2 linked regions of the Homo sapiens genome follow. The protein of the gene in region 1 interacts with the protein of each later gene in a pairwise test. Each region holds a gene or a part of one and is shown in the gene's direction. Other genes may lie near its edges.

Region 1 (7,345 bases):
CCAAGGGCTCCACTTCACAGCAAAAGAGGTGCAACCGCAGGCACACCCATGGTGTCTAGTGGTCCTATTATGTGCTGTACAACCCAGAGGCTGCTGGCTGATGGGGAAATGGAGTGGCCAGTTGAAGGCTCAGCCACAGCACCAGCTTGGAGGTGCCACCTGTGAAGCAAGGGCACCATCCTCCAGGGTGTATGTACATCCCAAGTCAATGACCAGTACACGATGTCCCCAGTGGGTAAAATACCTGGGCCTAAGAACCAAAGAATGGAAGCAGGAATAGCCTAATTTAGCATCACTCTCAGTGACCTACTTGGAGAATATGTGCTTCCTGTCCACACAACTACAGATTCTGTAGGTTCAGAGGTTCTGGTTTCCAAAGGGGAATGCTTCCACCAAGCGACACCAGTCACGCCAGGCTACTCATGTCAAGACACCAGTAGGCAGGGGAAGAGTCACCCATCGAGCAGGGGCAGTTGACCTGAACCATCAGAGGAGGTAGGGTTGCTGTCACACAATGGAAGCAGAGAAGACTGTGTGCCACCCACATGGGTGTCCCTCAGGACTCTTTCACCTGATGTAGTCAGCAAATAGGCAAGTGAGCAGCTATGGCTCAAGAAGGGAATGGTCACCAGGGGCTCATCCTCGTTGGTGAGGATCTGGGGCAACCCACCAGGTAAGCTATCTAGTCCAGCATGGGTCTAGCTGAGGGTGAAAGGGATCTGAATGAATAATCCAGGAGGGGGTTGTGAGTATCACCTTCAAGCCTGAGACTAGCTGCAGCAAGAGCTCACGCAAGAGCCTTGAGGAAAGTACAAATGAAACCCTACACAGCTGTGATACAGTGGGCAGGAGAGAAAATGACATGAGGTCTCACATGTTGTTGTAGTCAGATGGGGGGCTGGAGCTGAAACAGCATGGTGATCTTGAGCTGCTCCCTGTGGTCTGCCCCATGTGGGCTGGTTGGGCTTCCTCACAGCATGGTGGCCTCAGGGTAGTTGGACTGCTGACAGGGCAACTCAGGCCTCCAGGCACGAGTGCTCCAGTGAACATGGATGTCATGGAAGTCACACAGTACAACTTTCACTACATTCTCTTTGTAACAAGTGTGTCACAAGCCCGCCCATGGGCCAGGCACAGTGGCTTATGCATGTAATCCCAACACTTTCGGAGAATCCCTTGAGGCTAGGAGTTTGAGACCAGCCTGGGCAACATAGAGAGATCTTGTCTACAAAAAAGAAAAGAAAAATTAGTTGGGCATGGTGGCATACACCTATAATTTCAGCACTTTGTGAGATGGTGGTGGGAGGATGCCTCGAGCCCAGGAGTTCAAGATCAGCCTGGGCAACATAACGGGATATTATATCTAAAAAAAAAAGAAAAAAAAAAGTTTTCATTAGCCAGGCATGATGGCACATACCTGTGGTCTCAGCTACTCAGGAGGCTGAAACAGGGGGATCACGTGAGCCTAGGAGTTTGAGGCTGAAGTAAGTTAGGAGTCCACCACTGCACTCTGGCCTGGGCAACAGAGCAAGACTCTATCTCTAAAAAACACAAAAATTAATAAAATAAAAAACAATAAATAAACAAGATTCAATGAGAGGAGACATAGACCCTATCTCCTAATAGGAAGAATGTCAAGATCATATTGTAAATCAAAAATAAAATTATAAGCCCCAGCTGAGAGAATGGACCCCCTGTCGGCCAAGGGGACCCCAAAGAAACCCAAAAAACTAGTTCAGGCCATGATGGGAAGTGGGAGGTCACACATGCCTCATCATAGCCTCCTCCCTTTAAGTTTCGGCACAGCTGACCAGCATTAACATTAACATAGAGATCCTCCTAAGACTGACAGAACACTTTTGTAGCAATCAGATACCCGATTCTAACATGACTCTGGTATAGCAACACACGACAGAGAGCAGGCCCTAAAGGAAATCAAAGTATTTTACCCCAAAATAAATTTTCTTTGACATATTTTGAAATGGACTTGCAAAGTCATCTCTTGTGGGGGAAACTTGCATTCTGTAGAGAATCTCCTTACTTACTAGCTCTTTTCCAGAGAGTCTGATACCTTTTAAGGTCCCCAGAGACATGCACATCTATTCTCTCTGAAGCCTGCTAACTGGAGGCTTCATCTATGTAACAAGAACCTTAGCTTCCACATCCCCATTGTCTTAACTCAAGCATTTCTTTCTGCCGACTCCAACTCTTCAGGTAAAGCTTAACTCTTTTAACCAATTGCCAATCAGGAAATCTTTGAATCCTCCTCTGACCTGGAAGCACCACCCACCCACTTCAAGATGTCCCACCTTTCTGGGCCAAACCAATGTATACTTTACATATATTGATTCATGTCTTTGCCTGTAACTTCTGTCCCCATAAAATGTATAAAGCTATAGCCCAACCACCTTGGGCACCTGTTCTCAGGACCTCCTGAGGCTGTGTCACAGGCCATGGTCACTCCTATTTGGCTTAGAATAAACGTTCTGAGATATTTTAGAGTGTGGCTTTTCTCGTCAACCAAATTCTACAAAGAGCTTGGGGGGTGGGTAATGTTGTGGAGCCCATCTTTGGCAGATACAGTCTGCCAAAGATTGTGACACTGCCTTATCGATAAACTCAGTGGCTTAACACAATTAAAGCTTATTTCTCCCTCTTGTCACAGCTCTTTGGGTTCCTCATGGTTCCATGTGGTTCTTCAGAGCCTCCATTGGTGGCTCTAACCTCCCTGAGGTCCTCGGAGTGCCCTCCACTGGAGCAGTGGGTGAGTAAGAGAGCAGGGCTCACCCACAGGAGGTTGTTAGGGGCCAGCCTGGAAGAGGAGCACAGTGCCCGCCCCCACCCATCCCATTGACTAGCACTTAGCCACGTGGCCGCACCTGGTTGCAGAGGCTGGAGAGTGGAGCCCAGCTGTGAGCCTGGCCGGTCATGGGGACATGTGTTAGTGAGTACTGTCCACGTCAGGCTCAGACCATCTGACCTGAGGCTATGGGGATGCAGGGGTCCCCAGGGGGTGGACAGGACAGAAGGAGGAGGGAGACCTGCTTGGAGAACCTGTTCTCAGTTTCCATTTGTTACATAATGGACAAGAGGACCAGCACTTTTGCTCAGAGCTGCAGCTCTGGTTCCGCTAGGAAATGCCAGGCAGGGGCACAGCCAAGTGGTTCTCAGACAGTAAACCCCAAGCCACAGACCCTTGCTTTCTTGGGCAGGGAGTAGTGGACAGGGCTGACTCCAGGCAACAGTCCCAAACAGGCTGCACCAATGTGACCGCACCTCCCCTGAGTGCAGGCAAGGGGTGCTGTGCTCACGCTCTCAGCCTGGGTGCATCCTTACTTTGTTCACAGCTCCTCTATCGGACCCATTTCACTGAGGCTCAGCGAGGTTACCTATGTCGCCCCAGGTCACCATCCAGTAACCCAGAAAGCTTCTCTTGGCTCCTCCACTAACTGCGTGATCTTGGACAAGTCAGTTACTGTCTCTGAAAGCCAGTTCTCCTCCTTAAAATGGAGACAGTTGAGCCAGGCATGCTGGTTTATGCCTGTAATCCCAGCACTTTGAGAGGCGGAGGCAGGAGGATCGCTTGAGCTCAGGAGTTTGGGACCAGCCTGGGCAACATAGTGAGGCCCCCATCTCTATAAATTTTTTTTTTAATTAGCTGGGTGTGGCAGTGTGCCCCTGTGGTCCCAGCTACTCAGGAGGCTGAGGTGGGAGGATCACTTGGGCCCGGGAGGTCAAGGCTGCAGTGAGCCCTGATCGCGCCACTGCACTCCGGCCTGGGAGACAGAGTGAGATCCTGTCCAAAAAAAAAAAAAGGAGACAGTCCCATAACAAGCCCCCCATGGCGCCGCCCAGATGGGGTTTCGACGCCAGGGAGAGGAGGGAAAGGGTTATCAGGGAAGGTTCCTGGTGGCAGAGCTCACAGGGTCCGTGCTGAGCCGAATTTTGCACGGTAGCCTCAGAGTCCCGGAGCCGAGTCCAGAGGGCGGGATGCAGGTATTGCGAAGAGGCACACGCTCCGAGAGGAACCACCAGAGCGTGGGCTTTGGGCGAGGAGGGGTCTCCTCTGGTTGGGGGAGATCTGGCAGGCTTGGGGGAGATGGGGCTGAAAGGATGGACAGGGAGGGAAGGCCAGAAAGCTGGAGACGGGGATGGAGAGCTAAACCGCAAAGAGCAGGCGCCCTGCCCCGCTGAGGGCCCCGCGCCTCCAGCTCCTCCTTCCCGAGCTTCCCGGGGTCGGCGTCCAGCCGGCAACCAATGGGCCCCGCCCCCGCCCGCAGCCAATGGGCCGCGTCCCCGCCCGCGCGGCCGCCCCGCCCCTCGCGGACCCGGAAGTGGGCCTGGCACCTTCCCGGCCTGCCGCAGGGATGGGGCAGCTGTGCTGGCTGCCGCTGCTGGCACCGCTCCTGTTGCTGCGACCGCCAGGGGTCCAGTCCGCCGGCCCCATCCGGGCCTTCGTGGTGCCCCACAGCCACATGGACGTGGGCTGGGTCTACACTGTGCAGGTAGGTGCCGACCACGCCCCGCGCGCCCCTGAGGCTGCAGCTTCCCTCTCCCCGCGGGATCTGAGTGTGGGTTTGCGTCCCGGGGCCCGATGCCGGCGCAGAAGGAGGCTCAGTGGGTTCAGGACCCCACGCTGCCATTGACTGGTTGCGTCGCTAACTTCGGGCCAGTCACTTCCTGCCTCTGAACCCCCATTTCCCCTTCTGGAGGGTGGTGCAGATTGGAGGGACCCCTGCATTCCCGGCTGGGGAGGGGCTTGGGGGTTGACAGTGGTAACCCATTTTCCAGGGAAGCCTGGAGCAGGAGAGGGTGGGGCTGGCTTCAGAGCAGGTGGATGTCAGGTGCCCGCTGGGAAGGGGCCGGGCTGGTCCCCTGCGGGGCTGAATATTGGAGGCCAGCTCAGCGTCCTCCGCCCCCCAGGACAGGGGTGAAGGTGGACCTGTGGTCACCTCCTGGTTCTGCTCAGGACCTTGGGCGAGGGGCTTTGGTCCCTAAGCCTCAGTTTCCCCATCTGTAAAGGGTAGGGGAAGCATGCCCACTACAGCCAGTTTCCAGAGGAGAAAACCGAGGCCCAGAGAGGGTTGCTGCCTTGCCCAAGGTCGCTCGGGAATAACCCTCATGCCTCCTGACTCCCTGCTCGGTGCTCCTTCCATTCATGTAAGCACTCTGTGGGCACCCTGTGTGCAGGGCCCTCGGGACTCGGATGGGAACACACTACAGCTGTGGTCCTTGGAGCTCCCAGCCTTGGGGAGGCAGACGCCTAGACGCCAGGGACAGCCTGGGGAGCTCTTCCTCTCAGCACCAGCTTTCCTCATTTCAGCCCCAGCAGGCCCCTTTGGGGTCACTGGACCACACCCCGACTGAGGCCTAAGACTTTCCTGTGCTGCCCCTCAATGGCACACTCAGGGCCCAGCCCCCCAAATTGCACACTCAAGGCCCAGCTTGCTCACCCCTCTGAGAAACTGTCCCTGACCCCTGGGCTGGGAGGGCACCTGTCTCTGCCCATGTAGGGTGTCTGTTTCCCCGTCCCTCTCCCCCAGGAGAGCACGATCCCATCCAGTGGGGAGAGCCTGGTATGGAGCGAGTGCCTAATAGCTGTGTGGGGGGTGAGCAGCAGGGAAGGAAGGGCAGAGCCCCCAACCCCATGCAGACACACCTGGCGAATGGCAGGGGCCCCAGGGACACTTGGTCTTGTTGGACCGGGGCTGGCATGATGCTGTCCCCTCCCCAGGAAAGCATGCGGGCGTACGCCGCCAATGTCTACACCTCAGTGGTGGAAGAGCTGGCCCGCGGCCAGCAGCGCCGGTTCATCGCTGTGGAGCAGGAGTTTTTCCGGCTGTGGTGGGATGGCGTCGCCTCGGACCAGCAGAAATACCAGGTAATGAGGTCACCAGGTGACACAGTTGGCCCAGTATCCTGGCAAAGACCCAGGTGGAAAACTCAATGGGGCAGTTCTAGCCAGGGCCAGGGCCAGGCTGGCATAAACCACAGGGCCAAAACCCCACCGGGCTATTCACAGCCTTGTTTAGATCAAGGTTCACGGTGAGTTCCATGCCTGGGAGAGATTGCTTTCAATTTAATCCTGAATTTCTGTCTATTCTTGAAAAAACTGCCAGCTCTGGCAACCCAGCTGTGCACTTCCGTGCCAGCTGGCACTAAGTCAGCAGTGCCCCCTGACACCAGGCATCCCAGGTGTCCCCAAGCCCTCACCCTCTTCTCTCATTTGTGTTATCTGCCTGGCCCCCGGGCCCAGGGTCTGGTGACCCTTGATGAGGGTGCGATAGTCCCTGTGGTTTGAGGGTAGGCAGCAGGTTGCTTCATACAGCATGGAGAGTCAGAGTCCCCGCTGCACAGTGAGGCAGCCTGGGTCCCATCCTGCTCCCGCACCAGGGGACACGACTAGCCCCTGCGAGCCACAGATTCCACTTCTATTAAACGGGGGTGACCGCCCCATTGCAGAAAAGTCATGCCAAGAATGAAGCCCTGGCGTGAGCACCCAGGACGATACTCGGGGGTTCTTAGTTTCCTCCCAGGTATCCACCTGCCTTCAGAATAGTTGCTGAACATAAAGTTCAGGGACGCCAAGTGACTTGCTCAAGGGAGTGAAGCGGAGAAGGGAGAGCAGGGCGTCCACCAGGCCCCGCCAGAGTCACGGGAAGGAGCCGGACATCCAATGGCCACTTGATGCTGCCAGATAGTGGGGTTCTTACCTCAAGTTAAAGAGACATTCCAGGTTCAGAGAGGGCACGCCACTGGCCTGCAGTCACACAGCTTGTAAGCGGCAGGTGGGATTCTGAGCCAGGCATGCCTGACTCGAGGCAGGCCTTTCCAGGATATCCTGTGAGCGTCCCATGCTTCTTCAGGTGGACCCCACCAAACCCAGTGGTCTGTCTCCTAGCCCTCAAAGAGAAGCATGGCCTGCATGGCCCAGTGAAGACCTGGACAGGAAACTTGTGGCAGAGCTCCCTGGAGGCAGGAATTGTTGCCTGCTTCATTCACTGCTGAACCCCCAGTGCCTGAACAGTGCTGGTTGTGTAGTAGGTGCTCACTTAACATTTGTTGAGTGAATGATCTACATATAGTGCACCTTAAGAAACAAACCAAAGGCACAGCCTATAAACAGCTGTGTGTACACATACTGAGGTGTGTAGTGTCTAGGGCAACAAAGGTGTTATGTGTGTAGAGACGGGGATGTTAAGCAAATAGGTTAAAAATGGTAGTGATGAGTGAACCTTGGGAAAGGATATGGGAGCTCTTTGTTCTATTCCTGAAACTTTTCTAAAGTTTAGAATTAGTTAATAAAATAAGATTTAAGAAAATCTTATATATACAAATATATATC
Region 2 (3,043 bases), on another chromosome or scaffold:
AGAGACCTACAACGACCTCATCAAGCAGATCGGGAAGAAGGCCATGAAGACAAGCGGGGGTGGGGAGACGGGCCCGGGCCCAGGGCTGGGGCCTCAAGGCGGTGGGCTCCCAGCACTGCCCCCTTCCCTGGTGCCCCTGGTAGTCTACTCCAAGAACCGGGTGCCCACCTTGGAAGAGGTGTCACAGACACTGAGGAGCAAAGGCCACGTATCAAGGTCCCCAGATGAGGAGGCTGTGGCACGGGCCCCTGAAGACAGCTCCCCTGCCCCCGAGGTGTTCATGAACCAGCTGGACCGCATCAGCGAGGAATGCGAGCCATGGGACGCCCAGGACTACCACCCACTCATCTTCCAGGACGCCAGCATCACCTTCGTGAACACGGAGGCTGGCCTCTCAGACGAGGAGACCTCCAAGTCCTCGCTAGAGGACAACTTGGCAGGGGAGGAGAGCCCCCAGCAGGGGGCTGAAGCCAAGGCGCCCCTGAACATGGGCGAGTTCCCCTCCTCCTCCGAGTCCACCTTCACCAGCACTGAGTCTGAGCTCTCTGTGCCTTACGAACAGCTGATGAATGAGTACAACAAGGCTAACAGCCCCAAGGGCACATGAGGCAGGGCCGGCTCCCCACCCCACCTTTGATGGCCTCTTCCCCCCTCACCCTAGGGTGTCCCGAGATGACCGGGACGCCTGGCCCCTGGTGGGGGGGCAGCCTCGGAACTGGGAGTGGGGGGCCAGGGGCCTTCCTAACCTTCCATCATCCTCAGCTAGATGTATGCCCGGGACAGGGCCTCTGTTCTCCAGCTGAACCATACCCTGGCTGTGGGGGCATCTGTCCTGAGCTTGGCTGGTGTATCTCACAATGCAAAGACATGCTGGCTGGCGGGACAGGTGGGCAGGACTGACCCTGAGGAGGCCTTGCCTGCAGGGTCTTTGTCTCACCATTTGGTGGAGTATCACACGGTTCTCTGAGGTCTGGGGCCTCAGCTGTTTAAGTTTACCGGTATTACTGAGCTCGGCATTTGGAGAGGGAGCTCTGAAGTGTCTGGGGAGGTACCGCTGTGCGTGGGGTCAGGTGTTTCCGTACCACAGCAGGAGCAGGGCCCGCCCGCATCCCAGCTGTGGGCCTGCCGGTCAGGTCGGGCACCTACTACAAACCGTAGTGGGGTGGAGGCTGCTGGAGGTGGGAGTGAGGAGATGAGGGCAGGGTCTCAAACAGTCCTGACTCACAGGGCCTGGAAACAAGTCCTATGTGGGCCTGGGGCCTGGGGTCCTCATCCTCCTTGTTGGTCTACTCAGGCCCAGCCCAGAGCTGTGTTCCCTGTCTCAGGTCAAGCAGTGGCAGACGCAAGGCTTTCTGTGGGCCCCCAAGTGGTAGGAGGGAGAGTAGCAGAGCATGGGTTACTGGAAGCCGGGACTGCTAGGGCTGGTGGCCAGGGAGCTGCAAGAGTGAGGCTCAGCTCTGGCTGGTTCTGCCCTTACCCCTCCTGCCCGCCTGAGAACTGCACACCCTGCCCGCTGGCCCCAGGACCTGCACTCCCAATCCTGCTGTCTTCTCCTTCCCTGTGCCCTGAACAAGGACCTCACTGCCCGCCTTCCCCTCCCACCAGCCCCCTTGGGCCAGGCAGGGTGAGGCCAAATTGCTCTTGGCCCACAAATGGGTGATGGTCAGATATGTGAATCAAGCTCCTTTCTCTAGCTAGTGTTTGATGTGCACGTGTGTGTGCACAGTGCGTGTGTGCACACGCACACCTGTGCACTCGTGTGTGTTTAAGAAAGGAAAGGATTTGGGCTGGGGAGCAAAAGATAATGTGAAACTGTTGGTGGACTCTCTGGTGAGGGGTGGGCAGAACTTGCTGCTACTAGAGTTCTTGGGTTCTCCATGATGTTCACCCTGGGGCTGGCCCACTGTGTCCTGAATGTTTTTGTTATTTTTTGTTTTATTTTTTAAACAAACTGCTGTTTTTATATACCTGGAATCTGTTGTTGGCTTCAGAGCCAGTGGTTAAAGAGCAGGGTCCCAAGGATTGGGAGATCTAGTGTCTGCCCTCCTGCCCTGCAACTCAATTGGGCCTTTTTCGGTGACCTCATCCAAGGCCATGATGTCAAGGGCCATGTCCCCAAGCAGAGGTGGAGAAGGGGACACTGAGGTGAGCAAAAGCAGGAAGGGGCATCCACTGCGGGTGACTGGAGGCCGGGCAGGAAGCAAGTCATCAGAGCCGCTCAGCTCCGTTCACTCTCTGCCTTCTGCCCCACTACTGTGGGGCAGTGGGGCCAGAGCCCACCTCCCCAACATGTGAAGACAGTGATGGGCACGTGCCCACACCCCCACTTCTCTAGCCGTTTGCAGAGGCCGCCACCCAGCAGGGGCCTGAAAAGGAGCAGCCTCGTATTTTTCTGTGAAATGTTTTAATGAACCATGTTGTTGCTGGTTGTCCTGGCATCGCGCACACTGTATGTACATACTGGCAACGATGTCAAATGTAATTTATTTTAACATTTTTACAATAAAACATGAGGTGGACAGGCCAGCTTGGTGTGTGCTGTGTGTGGGTCAGGTTAGAGAGGGGTTGGCTTCTGGCCTCTGAGCAGCAGGGGAGCCTGGGCGCATCCACAGAAGATAGAGAGGACTCAGGACAGACTGATAAGAGGATTGGATGGTCTGGAGGGGAGAAAAGAATGAAAAGAGATGAAGAGAGCGGGGAGAGGCAGGCCTCTGTGGGGAGGTAAGGACGCGGGAGGAACATTGCAGTAGAGGTTTGAGAATCAGGAAGGAGTGGGAGGAGCAAGGGGAGAGGCGGGGTGATCATGGCAAACGCATGTCACTCACCACTTTGTCAGGCACTAAATGCTTGCACTGAATAATACGTGAGTGGACTCATTTGACCTGGCAAGAACCCTGAGAGGGCATCAGTACATCTCCATTTTATAGACGAGGAAACAGGCACAGAGAAGTTGCCTTGTGCAAAATCTCAGTAAAAATGGTGAGACTAGATTCAAACCCAGGCAGCCCAGCTCCTGTCCCCTCTACCACTGTGATGAGATGAA

The links.
Region 2: the proteins of MAN2B2 (region 1) and KCNK5 interact in binary tests that used the Homo sapiens proteins (3 or more experiments, as listed by UniProt).

Annotation. Positions count from the first base shown.
Region 1 is NC_000004.12:6,570,844-6,578,188, forward strand, and holds the start of MAN2B2 (epididymis-specific alpha-mannosidase isoform 1 precursor), read left to right. Parts: upstream 1-4,345; 5' UTR 4,346-4,367; coding exon 4,368-4,505; intron 4,506-5,734; coding exon 5,735-5,881; intron 5,882-7,345.
Region 2 is NC_000006.12:39,188,454-39,191,496, reverse strand, and holds the end of KCNK5 (potassium channel subfamily K member 5), read left to right. Parts: coding exon 1-607; 3' UTR 608-2,526; downstream 2,527-3,043. UniProt on the Homo sapiens protein: K(+) channel that conducts voltage-dependent outward rectifying currents upon membrane depolarization. Voltage sensing is coupled to K(+) electrochemical gradient in an 'ion flux gating' mode where outward but not inward ion flow opens the gate.